2 separate regions of the Homo sapiens genome follow, and region 1 is linked to region 2. A link means that fine-mapping ties the variant in region 2 to the expression of a gene that starts in the linked region. Tissue or cell type: fibroblasts. Region 2 holds a variant in brackets; the other region holds the start of a gene. All regions are shown on one strand. Distances are from middle to middle.

Region 1 (7,209 bases), 220 kb after region 2:
GTGTATACCTACTCAGCTATTCAGGAACTATCACTTGAGCCCAGGGGTTTGAGGCCAGCCTGGGCAACCTAGCAAATCACTGTCTTAAAAAAATACAAATTTTAAAATAAAAAGATAAATTGAGAGAGAAAAAGATCCTGCCTTCGTAGAGTTTATATTTTAGTGGGTGAGCCACATCAGACAGTAAATCAGCACACACTTAAGTAATGATGTACTGTGATAATCACTTGGTGGGAAGTAGGGTGTGAGAGAACAGAGAGGCTCTGAGATGGGAAGGGGATGGGTAGTTTGAAAAACTGCAAGGAGACCATCTGGGCCAATGCTTGGAGAGCCAAAGGCAGTGATTTAAAATGAACCCAAGGAGGTAAGCAGGGACCAGGTCCTGCAGAGCCTTAAATGTCACAGGAGGGAGTGTGACATTCAATCTAAGAGCAATGGGGAGCTGGGGAGGGTTTTAAACAAGGGATTGACAGGAACTGAGTTATATTTAACCGTTTGATCTGCTTTATTATTATTGAGACAGTGTCTTACTCTGTCACCCAGGCTGGAGTGCAGTGGCACGATCTCTGCTCACTGCAACCACTGCCTCTTGGGTTCAAGCAATTCTCGTGCCTCAGCCTCCTGAGTAGCTGGGATTACAGGTGTGCACCACCACGCCCAGCTAATTTTTATATTTTTAGTAGAGACATGGTTTCACCATCTTGGCCAGACTGGTCTCGAACTCCTGACTTCAAGTGATCCACTCACCTTGGCCTCCCAAAGTGCTGGGATTACAGGTGTGAGCCACTCCACCCAGCTGATCTGCTTTTAAATGCACTTATTAGCTTGCCCCTTTTCTAGGGTAGAAAAAATCTTGTGTTTTCTGATGCGACCCACTGGGTCGCATCAGAATTACCTAGGAAGCTTATTTTTCAAATACAATACTGAGAGCCATTGGATTGGAGGGGTGGCTGGCGGAGGTATTTTGGAGTAGCTTCCCAGAGGACTCTGATTCTCCACTGCCCCTATCACTTTGAGAATTACTGTTGTTCTAGAAGCTTAAAAGGATTGAAATGGATATTAGCTGCCTTATCATGAACTCTTAACCCACTTTACAGGGATGGGAGGGGCCATGATTCAGTGACTTTAACAATTCCAGTGGCCAGTCCCCAGACTGACAGGTTATCGACTCTTGGGGCAATAGAGTGGGATCTCTAAGTTCAGGAGGTAAGAAAACAGCAGCAGCGGTGTTTATCACTAGAGGCATGAGGAGAACTAATTTCTAAAAAGCACTGGAGAACTATACTGTAAAAAAGATCTGGGGTGCTATGATGCAAGGAAGGAAGTATTACTTGGTTGGGGCTGGAAAAATAAAGCAATTATAGTAAAAAAACTAAAAAAAAAAAAAAGTCTAGATCCCGGCTTCTTGACAGTGTGGTCTGAGAAGCAACAGCATCGCTGGCAGCTTGTTACAAATGCAGAGTCCTGGGCCCTGCCACAATCTGCATTTTTAATAAGAGCCTCGAGTGTTTTTTATGTGCTCATTAAAGTTTAAGCAGCACTGGTCCATATCACGGCGAGGAGATCCAGACCATCAGAGGGTAGGCTCCCTGGCACAGCTGACGCATTTTTGAATACTTTGATACAGCACAGTGTACCTGAAAAGATACTGCATTTTTGAAAATTAAGTGCTATAAATACTGGAGAAAGACCTCTTTTTTTAAACTGCGGGGAGGTTTCTCATAAGCCAAATTTCTTTTGACTAGAAGCATTTTCTGGGGAGTAAAGTACCAGGCTTCCTTAAAGTGAGGCGGAGCCACGTTAAAAATGTGCGGTAGAACTCAGCCTTGGCCAAGTCGACCGTTCACCAGCTGGGTCAAGTCTGGAGCCTCCTAGGTCCCTTGGCAGTTCCGAGCTACCAGCATGAGCTTTTACAGGAAGTTGAGTTGGCTGCTGTTCTGCCCCACAGAGCAGCTGAGTCTTTTTTTTTTTTTTTTTTTTTTTTGATGAGTTTCACTCTTGCCGCCCAGGCTGGAGTGCAGTGGGGCGATCTCGGCTCATTGCAACCTCTGCCTCCAAGGTTCAAGCGATTCTCCTGCCTCAGCCTGCCGAGTAGCTTGGATTACAGGCGCCCGTCACCACACTCGGCTAATTTTTGTATTTTTAGTAGAGACGGGGTTTTCACCATGTTGGCCAGGCTGGTCTCGAACTTCTGACCTCAGGGGATCCGCCCGCCTCAGCCTCCCAAAGCGCTGGGATTACAGGCGTGAGCCACAGCTACCGACTCTGAGTTGAGTCTTTAACGCCGAAGATGCAGAAAGGAGACTTGACAAAACTATTTTCGGGGAGTGTGGCCGCGGAATTCGGTGAGGGTGCTATACCGGGAGAGAGTAGTAGCAACGGCTCATTCACTGTGAAGCCCCTAAGTGACCTTAGACCTCTGACCCCGCGCCTCACTCGGCGCTTCCGCGCGCAGCTTCCGCTCCCGCCCCTCCGACGAAAGGCTGGGCCAAAGGTGGGGGGGTGGGGCTCTGAGGTCGGCAGTTAGGGGCGGTGCCCGCTGGGGGCGGGTCTCGCGAGGGGCAGGATTCGAGGAGGCACTCGAGCATTGGGCACCAGGTAGAGGCGGGGCCTAGTGCTGGGCTGGGTTGGGCGGGGCAGGGAGTTCGTAGCCGCCTCTGGGTAACTCGACTCGGGCGGCCAAACCTCCGGAGGCCGGGGACGGAAGGCGGGCCCGCAGCAGATCCTGGATCCGGAATCTCCCGGGCAGGAGCGGAATCTGTCCCGAACCGGGTCTGTGAGGAACTCGCGAACTTGGATTAGGAAATCCCGGAGCCCGGATCGACAAATCCCGGAACCCGGAATTAAGATCGCCAAGTCCCGGATCGCGGAGCACAGAGCACGGAGTGGACTCGACGCGGAGCCCGGAGTCCGGATCGCGGCACCGCGGGACGGGACGGAGCGATGTCGGGCCGAGGCGCGGGCGGGTTCCCGCTGCCCCCGCTAAGCCCTGGCGGCGGCGCCGTGGCTGCGGCCCTGGGAGCGCCGCCTCCCCCCGCGGGACCCGGCATGCTGCCCGGACCGGCGCTCCGGGGACCGGGTCCGGCAGGAGGCGTGGGGGGCCCCGGGGCCGCCGCCTTCCGCCCCATGGGCCCCGCGGGCCCCGCGGCGCAGTACCAGGTGAGCAAGGAGGACGCGAGCGGACGGGGGCGAGAGGCGCTGCGAGGGCGCCCGGGCCGGCGGCTGAAGGGGCCTCGAGTGAGGGCCCTGGGGAATGCATGAGGAACTCCGGGAGACGGTGGAGGGCGGGCCGGGACCCTCGGGCTGCGGCGGGTCGCGGTGGAGAAGTGGGAAGGGGAAGCAGGTTCTGCAGCGGAGGGCTGGAAGCAGCTGGGAGGCCTGGGGGCTTCCGCGGCACAGGGATTCCGAGTGACTGGGAGATGGAGGAGTTTGGGGAGCCAGTGAATTGTGGCGGGTGGGTTGAGAAGTCTAGGGTAGGAGGGCTGGAAAGTGATGAGAAAGTTTGGGAAAGGGCCCTCGCTGAGAAACCGGGGTTACCCTGCATCGGCCTTGGTCCCAGTCCAAGTCTGCCCTGTTTTTTCTGATTGGGAACTGGCGGAGCTCTAGCGTGTCTGAGATGGCTCCCGGCTGCTAATAAGGAGGAAGGAGCCTGGCTTCCCACGGGCACGGGACGCTGAGGCTAGGGCCAGGGGATTCCAGCTTGTGCACGGGCGGACTTTACTCCTGAGGCAGGGCCAGGCGCCTTCGCTGGGAGGACTCCAGCTTAGACCAGAGACGGTGGTGGCCTGGCCTGAGGGGAGGCCCAGCCCAGTCACAGGCCGGCTCTCTTCTGGGCTTTCTGCCTCCTGTCATCGTGTCCGGGAGTTGATTAGTCTGGACGTGCAGAGTGGAGCCCTGCTGGTCTGGGGCCGGAGGAGTCTGCGAGAGTTGCTTCAAAGAGTGCTGTCCTGACCCCTTTGGGGTTTTGAGAGCTGCTCAGATTGCAGCTTCAAAAGCCCTTGCAAAGCAGCGACTTCTGCTCAGTGTGTGAGGACCTCAGCCTGACCCTGCCAGTGCTCTAGTCTGCTGTTCAGGTTGCCCCAGAGGGCTTGGAAACTGTGCCCATCTGCCTTGTCACCCTCTCTGCATTTTTATTTGGCCTTCAGGTTCTAACTCCACCACGTCCGAAGCCATGTGCCCAAGCATTTGACACTGGCTTCTTGCTCATCTACGGGTTTGCTGTGGGCTTCCTCTGTTTTCGACTCATGTCTCCAGGCAGAGGTCCTTAGGGATCCTCGTGGAGTATACACAGCCTACCTGCCCCACTGGGCCCTCACTTCTAAGGAGATGGCTTAACTAGGGACAGTGACTGGATTTTTTTTTCCTTCTTACTCCTCATTCTTCCTCCTTTCTCAAGAGAAAAGAGAGTCTGGGTATGGGCAGAGACAGACCTGGTCCCAGGGATTCCAGCTGGGGCTCATCTCTCCCACCTTGCTGTCCCCGTTGGGGATTCATGGGCCCAGGGTGTTGCTGAGGGCTCCCTGCATCATTCATTGTAGCCCTTGGGCCTGCCCACTGAGACCTGGCCTGGGCACCATCTGTGGGCCTTTGGCCTTGGAAGGACCTGGAACAGACAAGCCGCTCCAGTTTCCTTGGCATGCAAGCCATAGGAAATGTGCCCTTGGGACAGCCCCTGAGAGGATGGATTCCACATGTTTTGGTGGGGGGTGGCCTTGGGCCTGTGGCAAGGCCAAGCTGGCTGGCTGGTTAGGCCTGGGCTGCTAGCTGTGCGGAAGTAGGAGATGGCCCTGAGTCTGGGTTTCCCATCCCACTAGCTTTCCTCCTCCTGGCAGGAGAGGTAGATGGGAAGGAGAACCCAGCCAGCTAACTTTGGCTGAGTTTGAAGAGGATCCTATTTGCCTTCTTTCCAAGTCCAGTTGTATGACTGCCAGGAGAAGGGACTTGAGATCTGGGAAACAAAGGGGTTCCTGTCTGTTAGGGCTCATGAGATGCACTTGAAAAGTGAGAATTTGAGGCCCAAGCTGAGCAAATAGTTGAAAGAAGGGAAGTGATGACCTCCCTTCCTCCAGAGGGTGGTTCTAGCTGTGGATCACAGTTAACAGAGGAACCTAAAAAAAGAAAAAGAAAAGAAAAAAACCTCCAGGGCAGGATATGGTGGGCTCACACCTGTAATCCTAGCACTTTGGGAGGCCCAGACAGAAGGATTACTTGAGACCAGGAGTTCAAGACCAGCCTAAGCAACATAGTGAGACCATCATCTCTTAAAAAAAAAAAAAAAAATTTAGCCAAGCATGGTGGTGTGCGCTTATGGTCCCAGCTACTCAGGATGCTGTGGCAGGAGGATTGCTTGAGTCCAGGAGTTCAAGGCTGCATTGAGCTATGATCCTGCCACTGCACTCCAGCCTGGGCAACAAAATAACAAAAACCTCAGATTGCTGGGTTCACTCCAGAGAGTTCAAAAAGTTCAAAAAAAAAATTTTTTTTTTTCTGATACGGAGTCTCACTCTGTCGCCCAGGCTGGAGTGCAGTGACATGATCTCAGCTCACTGCAACCTCCGCCTCCCAGGTTCAAACAATCCTCTGCCTCAAGCCTCCTGAGTAGCTGGGATTACAGGCGCCCACCACCACGCCCGGCTAATTTTTTTGTATTTTTAGTAGAGACGAGGTTTCACCATCTTGGCCAGGATGGTCTCGAACTCCTGACCTTGTGATCCACCCGCCTCGGCCTCCCAAAGTGCTGGGATTATAGGCGTGAGCCACTGCACCCGGCCTCAAAATCCTTTTTACTCATGGGAGAGTGGGTGGTATGTTCCCCAACTGAGGCCCTCAGGCCCAGGTTCCAGGAGCATCAGGGCCACATTTGGGGCAGGGCAAAGCACGCTCACCGGAGCCCTGGATTCCTCATCTGGGGTTCAGGGGATTGATCCAGGCCTACCTGGTCCTGCTGCAGGCAGGGAGTTAGGGAGGCTCAGAGTGCTGGACTGCTTTTTTTTTTTTCTTTAACTCCTGAGTTGTTTTTTTTTGTTTGTTTTGTTTTGTTTTGTTTTTTGAAGTGGGAGGAGTTGCTAGCGCCTATAAGCCCTATGGAGCTTGGCAAGGCTCAGCTGGGACTTGAACTATAAGCAGCCTTCCCCTGGGGCCCTGAGTGAGCCAGGGGCTCTGGGCCCAGGAAACCTGGAGCAGATGTCTGGGTGGAGCCTATTCCAGACCCTGCCTATGAGGCCTTGTCTTGGGACTTCCTGTTACCGGAGCACCTGCCCAGGAGGGATGGGTGGTGCTGCAGGTTTTGTGAACACTGCAGCAGGGAGCTTCCTGGGGACCACAGGGCCCTCGCTCACCTCTGCAGGACCCACTGCTTCAGTTCTTCCCTGTCTTTGTCTCAGGCACTAGGAAAAACTAGTCTGGGATGTCTGGGCCTGGGCTTACAGCTGTAGCCACACTTAGTTTTTTTCTATAATCTCAGGCCAGAGAAAGAACAATCTTTAAGGCAGAGAAAGAGGCTGTCTTTTGCCTTTCAACAGCTCTGATTAATCTCTTCCTGATGCAGAGAGACTTTGGCAGGACTCCCAAAGCCCCAGAGCCCCCCACTTTGAACTTTTTATTCTCCCAAACACTTCCGTCCCACCCTGCTCCTCCTCTCCCCATCCTCACGTCTGTGGGTCATGTTTCTTTCCATCTCCGCATCTGGTCAAGAATCTGACCCTCTGTGTTGGGAACATGGGTTTAGTGCGGGATGAAGAGGTTGGGGAAGAATCTCATCTCCATGATGCTGGGGTGGGGGAGGGTCCTTTGATTTGGTACAAGTCTCCACCCTGCCGGGCTTGGTTGGCTGGTTGTGCTCGTTGCATAATCTGGGCCCTGGGGCCAGCCCTGTGAAGCTGCCAGGGACAGTGTGTGCAAGGCAGAGCTGCCAAACAGGCCTTGCAGGCAGCAGCCATGGGGAGGCGGGTGGGGGTGGAGGTGACTCCCAGATGGGCTCCACAGAAATGTCAGGGAGCAAGGCCTCAGGTGGGAAATCCTTCTGCAGGCATCTAAAGAAGCTATTTCTGTCTCCCACTTTCCTGCTGCTCAGCCTGGGCCTCTATCCTTGCCTCCCAGGATAATCTTAGCCCCCTTCTCCAGCTTGGGATTGCCAGGGCTACACGGAGCCAGAGCCAGTCCTGGCTGCCAGGTGGTGCCTGGACCACTGGCAGAGTCCAGGTGCTAGCT
Region 2 (7,209 bases):
TAAGCGAGTTCATTGGAAACAAGTGAAATTGCTCAGAGGAGATCTGAGAATATTCCAGAAGTCTTGTTTCCTCTAACTGAGTGACTAGAGCCTGCCACAAGAGTAGAGGATGTGGTTGCAAGATGGGGTGAGACTCAGCATGCTTTGTTTATTTGATCTGTACAGAGATGTCCCACTTTGTGTCCAATGGTGATGGGCTGGTGGTGACTGTGGACAGTGAATCTGGGGACGTCCTGTGGATCCAAAACTACGCCTCCCCTGTGGTGGCCTTTTATGTCTGGCAGCGGGAGGGTCTGAGGAAGGTGATGCACATCAATGTCGCTGTGGAGACCCTGCGCTATCTGACCTTCATGTCTGGGGAGGTGGGGCGCATCACAAAGTGGAAGTACCCGTTCCCCAAGGAGACAGAGGCCAAGAGCAAGCTGACGTGAGTTGGGAGCTCGGGGAAGGAGAGGGCGGCCGTGGCCTTCGTGTTCTGGTGCTGTTGCAGTGTAGCAGGCCCTGCACGGGAGGCCAAAGACAGGGCAGTCTCTGAAGCCATGAGGAATATTCAGAGCCAAGACTGTTTCATTTGGAAACCTCAGAATACAAGAGCTGAGGGGCACCCATTAACACTTCAGAGTTATTAAATATTACATAAAAATCATGGATGGGAGGTGTCGGGCACCATGGCATACACCTGTAATTCCAGCTACTTGAGAGGCTGAGGTGGGAGGATTGTTTGAGCACAGGAGTTTGAGGCCAACCTGGGCAACATGGCAAGACCCTCCCCCTGCCACCACACACACACAAATAAAGGTATAGGAAAGAGACTGCCAGTGTAAGTATAGTTTGGATCTATCTTAGGTGGTAGGGATGCAAGAGATTTATTTTTTTAACTTTCTATATTTTCTAAGTTTTTAGGTTATATTCATTTTAAAAATCAGAAAAAATAGTTACAGTGTGTGTGTGTGTCCAAGACTCAGCAGGCTTCTGTTCTCCATCCCCCTCTTCATAGCCTATCACCGAGTCACTTAAACTCCCCAAGCCTCAGTTTCCTACTTTATATATAGAGTTGTGTGGAAGATCAAACAAGATAATATGCCGGCAAGTGTTTAGATTGTAAAACAGCATTCAAATGTAAGGTATTCGTTGAGAGAGGTTTAGATAATGTAGTGGATGACCGATCCCAGGTGGGCTCTTGACAGTAAGCAGAAGGGCCAGGAGGTGTAGCTCTCACCATTTTCTGTCTCCCTGATGTCCCACATGGGGACAGACTACACAGCTGGGGAACCAGAAGTCTCACCAAGTCTGGAATTTCTTATGCATCCCTTTTGCTCTCAGCATCCAGAGTAGAGCAGCTGACCATTTCTCAGGAGTTCTGTAAAACCTCCAGGATCCTTAGAAAGCACAAGGCAGAATGGGGGTAGTTCTGGTGGTCGCTGGAGTGATCGCTGGAGTGAAAGTGTGTTGTAGAGAGTCATCTGAGGGGCCTCGGCGGTGGTAGTAAGCACTCAGTCTCCTCTGTGGCCACTGGGCGTAGTCCTTTCTGCAGGCATCATGGGCATCGTCTAGTCCAGCCCTGCGATTTTGCTGAGGCTTGCCATTAGGTGGCTTGTCCATGTTTCTGCAGTGAGTGACAGCTGGGATGAAGTCCTGTGGTCCTGTTCCCAGGGCAGTGCCCCTAGCTTCACACCCCTACTGCGTTCCTCCATGTCTGGGGGGTTAATGTGGTCATCCCTGCGGGTGGTATTTGGGGTGATGATTACTCCCTTCTGTGGGATCTGGAAATTCAATGACTCTGGAATGCATGTATCTGTTTTTCTCCTAGGCCCACTCTGTATGTTGGGAAATACTCTACCAGCCTCTATGCCTCTCCCTCAATGGTACACGAGGGGGTTGCTGTCGTGGTAAGTCCACTACGGAGGGCTCGCAGCTGCCTAACCACTTCTGTTCCATTTTAGCAAAGAATGACTTTGCTATGCATGAGCATCCTGCAGGTTAAGAATGAAAAACACAAATCTTAAGTTCTCAAAAACAGTTTCTGCACATGCCACATTCTACTTTGAAAGAAAGATACATGACAAAAACAGCTTCTTAAAGCCGAGGAATCCCTGATTATTCCCTTTTGCTTTTGTGATCAAATCTAAACTCCCCAGGCTGGTGTTCATGGCCCTGCTTCATCCAGTCCCACGATGCCCTTCCTCCACCCTGTTAGTTTCTCTATGTGAGTTGCGTGGCCCAACCATGTGCACCTTCTCCCTGACTTCTACAAGCCCCATGTTCATCTTTCCCCGGGGCCTTTGTTCAGGCTGCTCCTCACCTCACACTTCAAATGCCCTTTCTTCTTCCTTTTCCCTACTCAAACCCTTTGCATGCTTTTGCAATCTCGCCGAGCCTCCTTGGGCCTCACAAGCCTGCCTCAAGCATTCTGTCTCTGAAAGTCCAAGGCGTCATAATCCTAGCTGTTTGTCCTGATCCCTACAATGCTTGGGCTGTGTGGTTGGCTCTCTTGTCTTCCCAGTGATTTGGGCGGCTGCTTCTGTGAATAGACAGCGCCTGCCTCTGTCATAGTTCCAGCAGCACCTGAGCCAGCACTGGGCGTGTGGCTGGACTTTATTCCGCCCCATTGGTTGCGTAGATTGTGACTAACAGAGATATCCATTCATTCTCCTTCACTTATGTCTGCTTCTCATAATAGCTTCTTGGAGTTCTACACACACACTTCTTGTTCCCCAGTACCCAGACATAAGAATCTAAAAAGACGTCCATAAAGACATCAGTGCAGCTTGTCACATCCTGAGGGAGAAGCTTCTTTGCCCAGACTTTGGGCCTTTGTGTCTTGCTCTGTCCTGGACTAGCCCTGCACTAGAAATTGCTCACCTTTCAGGACAGTGGCTGGGATGGTGTGCCGTGGGACCCGCTCTCCCTCCAGGGCTCCTGACCCTCACTGCACCCTCTCCACAGCCCCGCGGCAGCACACTTCCTTTGCTGGAAGGGCCCCAGACTGATGGCGTCACCATTGGGGACAAGGGGGAGTGTGTGATCACGCCCAGCACGGACGTCAAGTTTGATCCCGGACTCAAAAGCAAGAACAAGCTCAACTACTTGAGGAATTACTGGCTTCTGATAGGTAAGAGCAGGTCTCCCACAGTAGCCTGAGGTGACAGCGTGCTGCCTCCTGGTGGGCGACCGCCGGCCCTGGTAGTTACACCGTACTGAGCTCGGAAGGCCTTGTGCTCAGAGCCCTTCCCGGCTGGCCCCTGAGACCTTGGGACATTTTTACCCCCAAGGAAAATCAACAAGGTAGCTGTGTTTCTGAGTCAGTTTTTGAAAACTGTTTAATGTTCCAAAACTCAGGTACTAAATTAATGTAAACCTTGTGTGAGTATCCGACATTAAGCCCTTTAGAATGCATTTCCTCACTCCTCACAGCAACCCTGTGTGAGGTAGGTACCCTTGTCATTTCCATTTTATAGTTAAGAAAACTGAGACTGTTTCTATGGAAGAATTAACTTGGAGTCCACGTGGGCATGAGGGTGAGGGGTTGGAGAGGCGAGGGCTGAGGACCCGGGAGGGATTAAATCCCAGGATGGATTGAGAGCAGCAGAGTCAGGGGCTGGTTGTGGTTCTAGGGCAGTGTCATCCCAGGTGTGTGGGAAGGTCCCTTTTTTCCTCTTTCTCTTGTTTTTGCTGCCATCACTAATGGCCAGGGATTGAACTAGAGGCCCTGTCCCAAGAGAGATAAGTTGAGATGACACTTCTTGAGTTGGCAGTGAGTGTGACAAACGAAGGCGGAAGTGAGAAGAGCTGTGTTCCTGGCAAGTGTGCCAAGTCATTAGAGCAGGAGGGAGTTTTCTTGAACCCCATCTGCCCTTCCTGTGCCCCATCCCTCACTGTTCTGCCACCTCCCAGCCCCAGTAGGGGCAGAGCAGGGCAGGAGGTCAGTCGGGTGCTGGAGCACCCAGGGGCCGGTGCAGTTTCTTCTCTCTGTTCTCTTCCTGTCGTGCTTGCTGGTGACAGGTACTAGGGGAGAAAGAGGTCAGGGCTGGGGCTCTGGAAAAGAGATGTGGGGCAGCTGGGAGC[A/G]TGTGGGGACCAGGAAACAGCAGGATCTGCCAGGCAGTGCGGTGTAGGTGGGGATGTGTGTAACCAGGTATTATGGGGGGAAACCAGGTATCCTTGAGCCCTGCTCGCTTCCTTTATAGATTGTCAAGGTCCATTTCTTTTTTCATCCTGTTTCCTTGTAGCCATTTTTATTTTATTTTTACCAAATAACGGGTAAAGGAGATGACAAAATAATAATACGTTTTTATTAACAGAAGTAGTTGGAGGAGCATGTATGAATAGGCCCATGGTGAGAAAAAAATAGCTAATGAGAAGAGGTCATTGCAATTACAAGGCTGCTCAGCATTATGTGCCAGTTAAGGGGCTCACAGACTGCCCACCAGTGATTAAGAAGTGGAATTAAGGAAATGTGTATATATGAGAATACAGAAAATATGGGGGCAGGGAGTCTTCATGGTTAACTTGTAAAATGAGATCCCTTTAAAATGGAAAGGTTGTCCAAGTAAGGAAACTGCGAAAACAGCAAAGTATAAGGAATCTATTAAGTGTAAGGATCCCACAATTCGAAAGCCTCTTCTGAGGACCTCCAAAGCTCGTCATCTTAAAATATGGCACTGAGACTATGGCAGTGTCTCCTGTTGACGAGGGCCACAAGTAAAAGGATATGCCCTACTATGTCCAGATATGTCCTTTCATTTTCTCTTTGTGGAAAGCATTAAAGATATTCCAGGTTGTCATTAATCGTGAAAATACAAGGATCCAATTAGCTTGAGAGGCATGGTCTGTGGGTTGCCCCAAAGCCATGGCCCTGACCTTGGGTGCTTTCGGCATCAGAGCTTAGTTAACTAGGCATATATAAGCCCGGGAGAGCCTGATTCAGTAGGTCTGGGGCAGGGCCTAGCCATCTGCTTTTTGCTCTGGAATCTGGACCTAAGAGATAATGATAGATGAATACATCAAGGAGACCAGGTAATATTTGTACAAAATATTTAGTGGTCTCATGAGTAAGGTTGTACAGTGGTTGGTCCAGTGTGTACAGCGTGATATCAGTGAAGGCCCAGCTCCAGGAGAAGCCTGTTTACAAGAAGGTTGACAGAAGAACTAGGGGGATTCAGGCTAATGCCTTCCATAGCAGTCTCTTGGCAGGTGTCCTACCAGACAGGTAGGACCCTGAGCACTGAGTGGGTGTTGTGGGAAGGGCAGGACACTGCTGCACAGCGTGGCATGTGGAAGAACACCTCACTTTTCTTAGACCGTAGGTCTCTTGTTAGTGAGCCTCAGAGTTACCCGCACATACTCACATTCGGATTCCTGGGCCCTACCAGCAAGTCTGATTCAGTGGTCTGAAGTGGGCAGACCACAAGTGGAGAAATCCTGCTCCCAAGCAAAGCATGTCTCAGAGCTCCTTGGTACACAAGAGAAACTAGTGGTGGCTCAAAACAAAAGTAGGTTTCCCTTAAAGAATGATATTATGTTGTAGATAGAGAACTGACCTAAAGATGGGAACTCAAAGAGGAATTTTCCAGATCAAGAAATGTACACAGCTTAGACTAGTTCCTGTTTGTTGTCATCTTGGCATGTATGTCATGAAATCTTTGATAGGTTTAGGGGAACAATGGAAAGATCATAAGGTGAAAGAGACGTGAGTCAGAGTGAGATCTGCTCATAGCCAGAGAACAGAAAGGAAAGTCAGCCAGGCTACTGGCAGCCTAATCTGAAACAGTGACCTGGCTCTTTGGGGCAGTATGTGGACTCATTTTTAGAGCTGAATGGATTATCAAGCCCTATCAAATCCCAGTTCCCTATTCTAGTCAGCTTTGTATCTCTTACAGCAATTTGCACACAATAGATGCTCAATAAATGTGTAATGAATGCTCAGTAGCCATGCGATAGTTGTGTAGTGAACAGCAAATGAACGTGGAGCAAGCTATGGCCCCATCCATCTAGCAGGTGTGTCCTACTGCTTTCTCGCAAGTAATGTACCACTTTCCCCGATGGAAGCTCACATTTAGATAATAGTAGGACTGGAACTCCACCTGAGCAATTTAAATACCAAGATGGGAATTCGGCGGCCATAGAAGAGTGATGTTACAGGAAAAAGCATTGAAAGGAGAACTCCTTGAACTTTTAATGAAGCCTCATCATACTTCACCTGTGGATCGGGCCCATGCAGCCCCACGAGCCTTGCGTCTGGTGCCTCCCAAATGTCCTGATCCCTGTCATGCAAGGATACTTCTTCACTCCTCAGTAGGAGACTTGGAATACTGTATTCTGCCATGAAGTAATAAGGGTCCTGCTTTGATGGAATTTTCTGGTAACTGCCACTCATTTTCTCTAACTCACAGTCCTGCTGAGAGTTTGCATTGTGGACCCCTCAGTGGGTAGCACCTGTTGCCTAAGTTTAGCATTGAGTGCCACCACAGCTCGGGAAATTGTTCTCACTAAAGGTTTTGTTTCCTGTCATAGGACACCATGAAACCCCACTGTCTGCGTCTACCAAGATGCTGGAGAGATTTCCCAACAATCTACCCAAACATCGGGAAAATGTGATTCCTGCTGATTCAGAGAAAAAGAGCTTTGAGGAAGTGAGTGAGGAAGCGACCAGTCGGGGGTTGTTGGTGTTAGGTGTTGGGAGGGTGAGGCATTAGACTTTGACTCTGCCTTCTGAGCTTGCAGCCTAGTCTGGGAGGGAAGAGGAATGCACCAGAATCCAAAGCAAAAAACATAAATGGTTAAGGGCTAGTGGAGAGGAATAGGAAGCAACTTGTGAAAGAAGGTGCAGGAAAGGCAGCAGGACCAAGCTAGGCCTGGACCTGGATGAATGGGTAGGATTTGGCCAGGTGGAGGGAGCAAGAGGGCACAGGAGGGAATGGAACAGCAAGGGCAAAAGCCTGGAGTGGGAAGAATGCTGGTGTGCCCAGCTCACAGGCTGTGGGGAGAAAGGCCTGGCCAGACCCGAGGCTACTAAGTAGGGGGTAGTAGGAAATGGGCTCACATGGGTAAAAAGGAACCATGTTACAGGGCCTGAAACAAGCCCTGTGGAGGAGTTTAAGAGTTGTTGAAGGCTGGGTTGGGTGTCTCACACCTGTAATCCCAGTGCTTTGGGAGACCAAGGCAGGAGGATCGCTTGAGCCCAGGAGTTTGAGACCAGCCTGGGCAACATAG

Evidence for each region. PIP is the estimated chance that this variant, and not a neighbour inherited with it, causes the effect.
Region 1: SMARCD2 starts here. The variant in region 2 is fine-mapped to the expression of SMARCD2 in fibroblasts (GTEx, PIP 0.95).

What each region holds. Positions count from the first base shown.
Region 1 is chr17:63,838,409-63,845,617 of GRCh38, reverse strand. SMARCD2 (SWI/SNF related BAF chromatin remodeling complex subunit D2) reads left to right here and starts at 2,933. Exons shown (of 13, transcript NM_001098426.2): 1 at 2,933-3,159. The coding sequence starts at 2,944. RefSeq lists a cis regulatory region at 942-1,331, silencers at 2,441-2,610, 2,981-3,210, 6,035-6,329 and enhancers at 3,931-4,010, 6,035-6,329.
Region 2 is chr17:64,059,889-64,067,097 of GRCh38, reverse strand. ERN1 (endoplasmic reticulum to nucleus signaling 1) reads left to right here. Exons shown (of 22, transcript NM_001433.5): 8 at 166-427; 9 at 1,811-1,889; 10 at 2,947-3,112; 11 at 6,511-6,629. Among named protein-coding and RNA genes, the nearest start is that of ICAM2, 43 kb to the right of the region's middle. RefSeq lists enhancers at 2,955-3,004, 4,015-4,084. The variant A/G (reference allele first, on the strand shown) is at 4,066.